2 linked regions of the Homo sapiens genome follow. The protein of the gene in region 2 interacts with the protein of the main gene of each other region in a pairwise test. Each region holds a gene or a part of one and is shown on either strand. Other genes may lie near its edges.

Evidence for each region.
Region 1: the proteins of PLEKHB2 (region 2) and ATF7IP interact in a two-hybrid assay, tested with the Homo sapiens proteins (one large-scale study listed by IntAct).

The regions. Positions count from the first base shown.
Region 1 is NC_000012.12:14,424,490-14,428,310, reverse strand, and holds part of ATF7IP (activating transcription factor 7-interacting protein 1), read right to left. Parts: coding exon 2,838-3,821; intron 1-2,837. UniProt on the Homo sapiens protein: Recruiter that couples transcriptional factors to general transcription apparatus and thereby modulates transcription regulation and chromatin formation. Can both act as an activator or a repressor depending on the context.
Region 2 is NC_000002.12:131,108,162-131,111,982, forward strand, and holds part of PLEKHB2 (pleckstrin homology domain-containing family B member 2), read left to right. Parts: intron 1-3,821. UniProt on the Homo sapiens protein: Involved in retrograde transport of recycling endosomes.

The sequences.
Region 1 (3,821 bases), on a different chromosome or scaffold from region 2:
CAACTTTGAATTTTCAAAGTATGCAACATGGATGGCTTAATATTCATCTCTCAGCACTTAACTGCCTTGTGTGGGATGCCCTCCAATATCAAGATTCTGACATAAAGGTACTCATTAAATCATAAGCTGCAATTTGCTTTTTTAACTTTCTTATACAGACTTTTTTTTTTTAAAGGACTTATAAGGCTTTTTTATGGACTTGGCCTAGTGCCACACTCTGTATAGACACTTATAGGAAATGGATGAAATTCATTCTCAACACTGTCACCTATTACCTTTCCAAAATGTAAATTTCATTCTCCTCTCTGCTTGAAGTTCTTTATTGGCATTCCAGCGCCATCATAAAGCTTTAGCATTATAACCAAGGTCCTCCATGATATGCTTCTCTTACATTATTGATTATTCATTCACTTTACAAATATTTACTGGGCACTTACTGTGTGCCAGGCACCGTTTTGGCCTGATGATGGTGACTCGCAGCAGGAGTAATAACAGTTGTGAATTGGACTCTAGATCTATTATGATAGTAGTACCAACAGAATTTCCTGATGGACTAATTATGGGGTGTGAAAGAAAAAATAAAAATGGTTCCAAAGTTTCTGGCCTCAGCAAGTAGGATGGAGCTGCCATTAAAAGGAATTAGACTTGGCCAGACGCGGTGGCTCACGCTTGTAATCCCAGCACTTTGGGAGGCTGAGGCAGGAGGATCACGAGGTCAGGAGTTTGAGACCAGCCTGACCAACATGATGAAACCCCGACTCTACTAAAAATACAAAAATTAGCCAGGCGTGGTGTCGCGCACCTATAATCCCAGCTACGCAGGAGGCGGAGTGGGGAGGAGAATCACTTGAACCCGGGAGGCGGAGGTTGCAGTGAGCCAAGATCGTGCCACTGCACTCCAGCCGGGGCAACAGAGCGAGACTCCATCTCGGAAAAAAAAAAAAAGAATTAGACTCATTAAAACCCTATGTTACAGCAGAGCCAATATAGCAAGACCCTGTCTCTACAAAAAAATTAAAATTTTGCCAAGTGTGGTGGCACATGTCTGTATTCCCAGGTACTCTGGGGGCTTAGGTGGGAGGATCACCTAAGCCAGTAAAGTGGAAGCTGCAGTGAGCTATGATTGTGCCACTGTACTCCAGCCTGGGCAACAGAGCAAGACTCTGTCTCACAAAACAAAAACAAGCAAACAAAAAAAACCTCTGTTATACAGATATTAAAAGGGGCAAGACATCCCTAATACATCTGGTGCTCTAATAAAGTTACCTTAATCTGCACTCCCAGAATGCCAATTTAACATTATCACTGTACTCACAGTCTTGTATTTAATGGCCTATGATTTAATTCTTGTGTGTATCCTGAGGGCAAATACTATCTTCAAATCTCTAGAACCAAGAAGGGCCTGGCCTGTCTCTTTATATAGGTTTAGTTGAATGCTCTTTGAAAATAAAAAGCCATCCTTTTTTTTTTTTTTTTTTTTTTTTTTTGAGGCAGGGTCTTACTTTGTCACCCAGGCTGGAGTAGTGGCGCGATCTCGGCTCACTGCAGCCTCGACCACCCAGGTTCAAGTGATCCCCCTACCTCAGGCCCTCAAGTACCCTGGACTACAGACAAGTGCCACCACGCCTGGCTAATTTTTGTACTTTTGTAGAGACGGGGTCTCACCATGTTGCCCAGGCTGGTCTCGAACTCCTGAGCTCAAGCAATCTGCCTGCCTCAGCCTCCCAAAGTCCTAGGATTATAGGTGTGAGCCACCTTACCTGGCCAAAAAAAAAAAAAAAGCCATTTTTTAATAAGAAAAAAATCTCTACCTCCAAAAGCTGGTATGATATATTGGGGAAAAAAGTTGTCTCTGTCTCTTAGACCTGCCTCCATTTTTTTTTCTTTGAAGAAATTAGATGGTGTTTTATGCTAGCAAGGTCACTTCTCTCAGAGATGTCTAAATCTAAAAGAATGTGATATAATGGGAAAAGAAAGGTATTCATGCTTTTCTCAGTCTTCCACAGGCTTAGAAAGTTTCATAGAGGAATAATGTTTTTCAGTTTGACCATAAAAGAAGGTAGAATTTTTCTCATTCTTTTTCTCTAGGAATAATAAATAAAATAAAAGAGATGGGAGAGATAGGTACTGAACAAATCATAAAGTTAATGTACCTTTTACATAAGGAGTTTGAAATCAACCTAAAAGTAACAGAGATCTAAGACATAGACGGACAATATCAAATAAGAGAATTGGGTTACAGGGAGCTCATTCAGAAAATGAGGAAGAGAATAGGTTGGGTAGAATCAAAAGGGCTGAGGGAGCAAATGGGTAAAGTCTTTATCAAATGGATAATCAAGCTTTAAGGTTTCTGGCTTACAACAATGGTGCTGTCATTCCTGGACAAAGAATATTAAAGAACAGGATTTCATTGGGAATATTAATTGAAAATATAATTTGTTACACTTGAAGCAAATAGATTAAACTATTAGGCTTTTAGTTCTAAGTTATTTGTTCGCTAAGTGATAGCAAGAAAGAACTGCTACAACTCTAGTCAATTATGTACTAACTTAAACTGTTATCTCAGTGTTATGGTGCTCTACTTCATCTCTATTTCCAGACTATAAGGGCATATTTTCTACTTATTTTATCTCCCTTCTTAGTATTTAGTACAATGCTACTCACAGAGTACACACACTAATTCTGAATTCTATGAAGTTAAGACATCTTTCTATAGAGTCATCACCATTCTCAACTTTCTCTGCAGCTAAAATAAATTTAAAACATTATGATAATGTTTTATTAAACAGTTCATCAAAGTCAATAAAAAATCTTTAACATTTAAGTTATATGCTAACCTGGAGAGCACGTTTCATTTTGCGATATAACTTCAGACTCATCTTTTTCACCCGAAATATCCTCTTCATCAGAGAGGACCAGAAAGGCTTCTTTTGGCAAACTCTCACTACTTTCTTGTTTAGATGGTGAACCAAAAGAACTTTCCATTTTCTCTTCCAAATCTGGATTTGTCTCATCGATTGGAAGGAGAGATGTTTTAGAAAAGCAAGTAAGTTCATCCTCAGAAGGTGCAAGCTTTTCCAAAATAGGAATGATTTCATCTGTCTCCATAGAGTCTGTATTTTCTAAGATATTCTCACTTTTGTTATCTTCAATAACATTTTCATTAATCGTTTCTACAAGATCTGCAGAAGTTTCATCTTCATTCTTTTCACCTTGGTCAATTTCCATACTGCTAGATATAGCATCTTCTCCAAGAGCAAGCTCTGTGATAATATCTTCCTCTACCTTCTTTTCATTTTCAGGAGGTCGATCTGAACAAATAGTTGTATCATCTGTTTCTAGAGTTTCTTCATTAGCATCAATATTATTATCAGCTTTATTTTTCTCATCCAATGAGTCTTTACTCTGAATTTGCTCTAATTTTTCATCAGCTCCATTTTTTTCAAGAAAATCATCATCTTTATTGCTACTTGGTTCTATATTGTCAATTTCAGGAACTGGTTCACAAACTGGTACAGACTTTGGTTCAAAGGTACGATCAAAGGTTGATTCAGAAGTCAGCTCATCAGAGGCCAGTTCACCAGTGGCCAGATCATCAGAGGCCAGTTCACTAGAGGATAGATCACCAGAGGCCAGATCATCAGAGGCTGGATCAGTGGAAGCTGGTGCTCCAGAAGCCAGATCAACAGAAGTTATTTCACTAGAGGCTATATCATCAGCGGCACAATCACCAGAAATGGGTTCAACAGGGACCGGTTCACCTGGGATGGGATCACTAGAGGTGGGATCACCAGAGGAGAGATCATCAGCAGTGGCATCAC
Region 2 (3,821 bases):
CCAAAGGCAGTATTTTTTGTCCATCTGTTGTCTGTTTCGATTCAATGCTTTCAAAGAGATACAAATTCAAATTTAAAATAATTTAAATTGTTGAATATGGCTTACATTTTAAAGCTTTGCATAGGTTTTATTGGCATAAAAATAATGTTCTTTTGCAGCTAGTTTGCTGGTGTTTTATTCTCTAGAGACCAACAGCTAGGGCTTAGTGTTTATCTGATGAGTTTTAGTTTATGCATTCAGTTTTGCTCCAGGATATAAATAGTGAAATGTTGAATTAAGTTATGGAGTGGTGTGAAATTCAGCATGCTAAGGCAATCAAACAGAAGTCTTCTGAGCCATTTGAGAAGCAGCTTGATGTCCTTGTTCTTAGAACAGGGCTGTCCAATCTTTAGACTTTCTTGGGCCACATTGGAAGAAGGCCATACATAAAATACACTAACCCTAATGATAGCTGATGCACTAAAAAATAAAATTGCAAAAAAATCTCATAACGTTTTAAGAAAGTTTACAAATTTGTGTTGGGCTGCATTCAAAGCTGACCTGGGCTGGGGCCATGAGTTGGACAAGCTTGTTCTAGAATATTTTCGGCAAATTTTGGTAAGGGGGAAAATAAGTAATAGTAATAATAGTAGTAAATAGTAATAATTGCTGTCAAAGCAGCTACCATTTATCGAGTTCTAGTAACTGTGAGGCACCATGCCAACTACTTACATATTATTTCACCCAATTTTCCGAACATCCTGTCAAGTAGGTGGTGGGAATTTTCGTTTTATAGATCAGGCTTGGAAACGTGACTTGTCCGATTGAGTCAGGATCTGAACATAGGTCTTTTAACTCTAAAGCTTATACCCAAACACTGGGTTCTGTGAAATTTCAAAAGCATATGATAGGCTGACTGCAGTGGCTCATACCTGTAATCCCAGAACTTTGGGAGGCTGAGATGGAAGAATCCCTTGAGCCCAGGAGTTCGAGACCAGCTTGGGCAACATAGTGAAACCTCGTCTCTACAAAAACAAAACAAAATGTGATCAAAATCATACTTCATGATTTTTGGTTTCTAAAGATACTCTCTAAATTTCTCTCCCCAATTTAAAAACGAAAGCAGAGCACTGTTGGAAGGTTCAAATAGGTAGATTAATTTAGGTTGGTTTTTTTGTTTTGGTATAGTTGAAGATAATTCAGGTTATTGTTTACATGTTTACATTTATCAAAATAATACATGTACATAGATTGAAAGACCAAATAGGCTGAGCGTGGTGGCTCAAGCTTTTGGAGGCCAGCACTTTTGGAGGCTGAGGCGGGTGGATCCCCTGAGGTCAGGAGTTTGAGACCAGCCTGACCAACGTGGTAAAATCCCGTCTGTACTAAAAGTACAAAAATCAGCTGTGCGTGGTGGTGGGCGCCTGTAATCCCAGCTACTTGGGAGGCTGAGGCAGGAGAATCGCTTGAACCTGGAAGGCGATGGGTGCAGTGAGCCAAGATCGCGCCACTATACTCCAGCCTGGGCAACAAGAGCGAAACTCTGTCTCAAAACAAACAAACAAAAAAAACAACCAAATAGTGCTTTAAACCTTAGAATAAAAAAAAATATATCAATCTCTTGTCCACCCCCTTTTTAAACTATAGACAACTATTTTCACCTTTTTTTGGCACTTTTTAAAATAGTATTTTGGCTGGGTGTGGTGGCTCACACCTGTAATTCCAGCACTTTGGGATGCCAAGGCAAGTGGATCATGAGGTCAGGAGATCGAGACCATCCTGGCTGACACGGTGAAACCCTGTCTCTACTAAAAATACAAAAAAATTACCTGGGTGTGGTGGCGGTTGCCTGTAGTCCCAGCTATTCGGGAGGCTGAGGCAGGAGAATGGCATGAACCTGGGAGGTGGAGGTTGCAGAGAGCTGAGATCGCGCCACTGCCCTCCAGCCTGGGTGACAGAGTGAGACTCCGTCTCAAAAAAAAAAAATAGTATTTTATCTTTGTGGATATGGTAAAATTGCTATTGATTTACATGTAATCTTTTGACTTTTGATCATAGAAGACTTTTGCTGCCTTGTAAAACTCTTCAATCCACCAGTGAGTCAAAAACTTGTAGGAAATTTGTCAGTTACTTTTTTTCCTCCCCTGTAGTACTCGGTCCTGCTCCAGTCTGGACTGTTTTTTTTTTTTTTTTTCCTCCCCAGTCCTTCTGCACAGCTGCCTTTCTGGGAATTTCCTCCCCTGCCAGTTGAAGACCGAATCCTACTCTGTCGCCCAGGCTGGAGTGCAGTGACATGATCATTCATGGCTTACTGTGCTTCTACCTTCTGGGCTCAAGCGATCTTCCTACCTCAGTCTCCCGAGTAGGTGGGACTACAGGCGTGCACCACTATGTGCAGCTAACTTCTTATTTTTTTGTTGAGAATGTCTCACTGTGTTGCTGGGTTGGTCTCAAACTCCTGGGCTGAAGCGATTCTCCCACCTTGGCTTCCCAAAGTGTTGGGATTATGCTCAAGAGCCACCATGCCTGGCCTTGATTAATGATTTGACTGGGTGTGGAATTCTGGCTTGGAAATAATTTTCCGTTAGCATTTTGAAGGTATTGCTCTAGATGTCCTGTGTCTTGCTGATTGTTGATCCTTTATATATGCTTTTTTCTTTGGGAAGTTTTTAGGTTCTCTTCTTTGTCCTTGATGTTATGAAATTTCAGTCATCCTACCTATGGAGAATCTTTTAAAATTCATCATGCTGGACAGTCATTGGATCTTTTGAATCTAGAAATGTGTTATCCTGTTGCAGGAAATGGTTTTATAGTATTATTTCTCTGCTCTTTTCTCTGTGGTTTATTTATGAAATTCTCCTATAAGCAGAATTTTTTTTTTTGAGACGGAGTCTCGCTGTGATGCCCAGGCTGGAATGCAGTGGTGGGATCTCAGCTCACTGCAACCTCCGTCTCCCGGGTTCAAGTGATTCTCCTGCCTCAGCCTGCTCAGTAGCTGGGACTACAAGTGCGTGCCACCATGCCTGGCTAATTTTTGTATTTTTAGTAGAGATGGGGTTTCACCATACTGGCCAGGCTCGTCTTGAACTCCTGACCCCAAGTGATCTACCCACCTCAGCCTCCCAAAGTGCTGTGATTAACAGGTATGAGCCACTGTGCCCAGCCAGCAGAATATTTTATATTCCAGGCTCATCCTCTAATTTTTTTCCATCTCTTGGTCTTTTTTTTTTTTTTTTTTAGCTCTTCATTTCAGAGAGATTTCTTCCATCTTGATCTTTCCAACTCTTGTATTGAATTTTTAATTTTGGTTATTATTTTTAATTGAGAGCTCTGAATATTTCTTTTTATTCTTGTTTTTTTTTTTTTTGAGATGGAGTCTCACTCCAGTCACCCAGGCTGGAGTGCAGTGGCACTATCTCGGCTCACTGCAAGCTCCGCCTCCCGGGTTCACGCCATTCTCCTGCCTCAGCCTCCTGAGTAGCTGGGACTACAGGAGCCTGCCACCACGCCCAACTAATTTTTGTATTTTTAGTAGAGACGGGGTTTCACCATGTTGGCCAGGCTGGTCTCGAACTCCTGACCTCAAGTGATCTACTCTCCTCGGCCTCCTAAAGTGTTGGGATTATAGGCGTGAGCCACTGTGGCCAGCTGTAAAGTAATATTTTTAAAGTTTTCTTTTGTACCCAGCATTGTCTCTGATTCTTGAGGTTTTTTTCTTGAAAATTTTATTTTCTTTAATCTCTATCTTTTATGGTCTAGATTTTTCTCCAGTGTCTGATTGTGGTACTGTGAAATGTTTATTTTGTCTTTGACCTCATTTCCTGCCTTACAACTCCTATTTA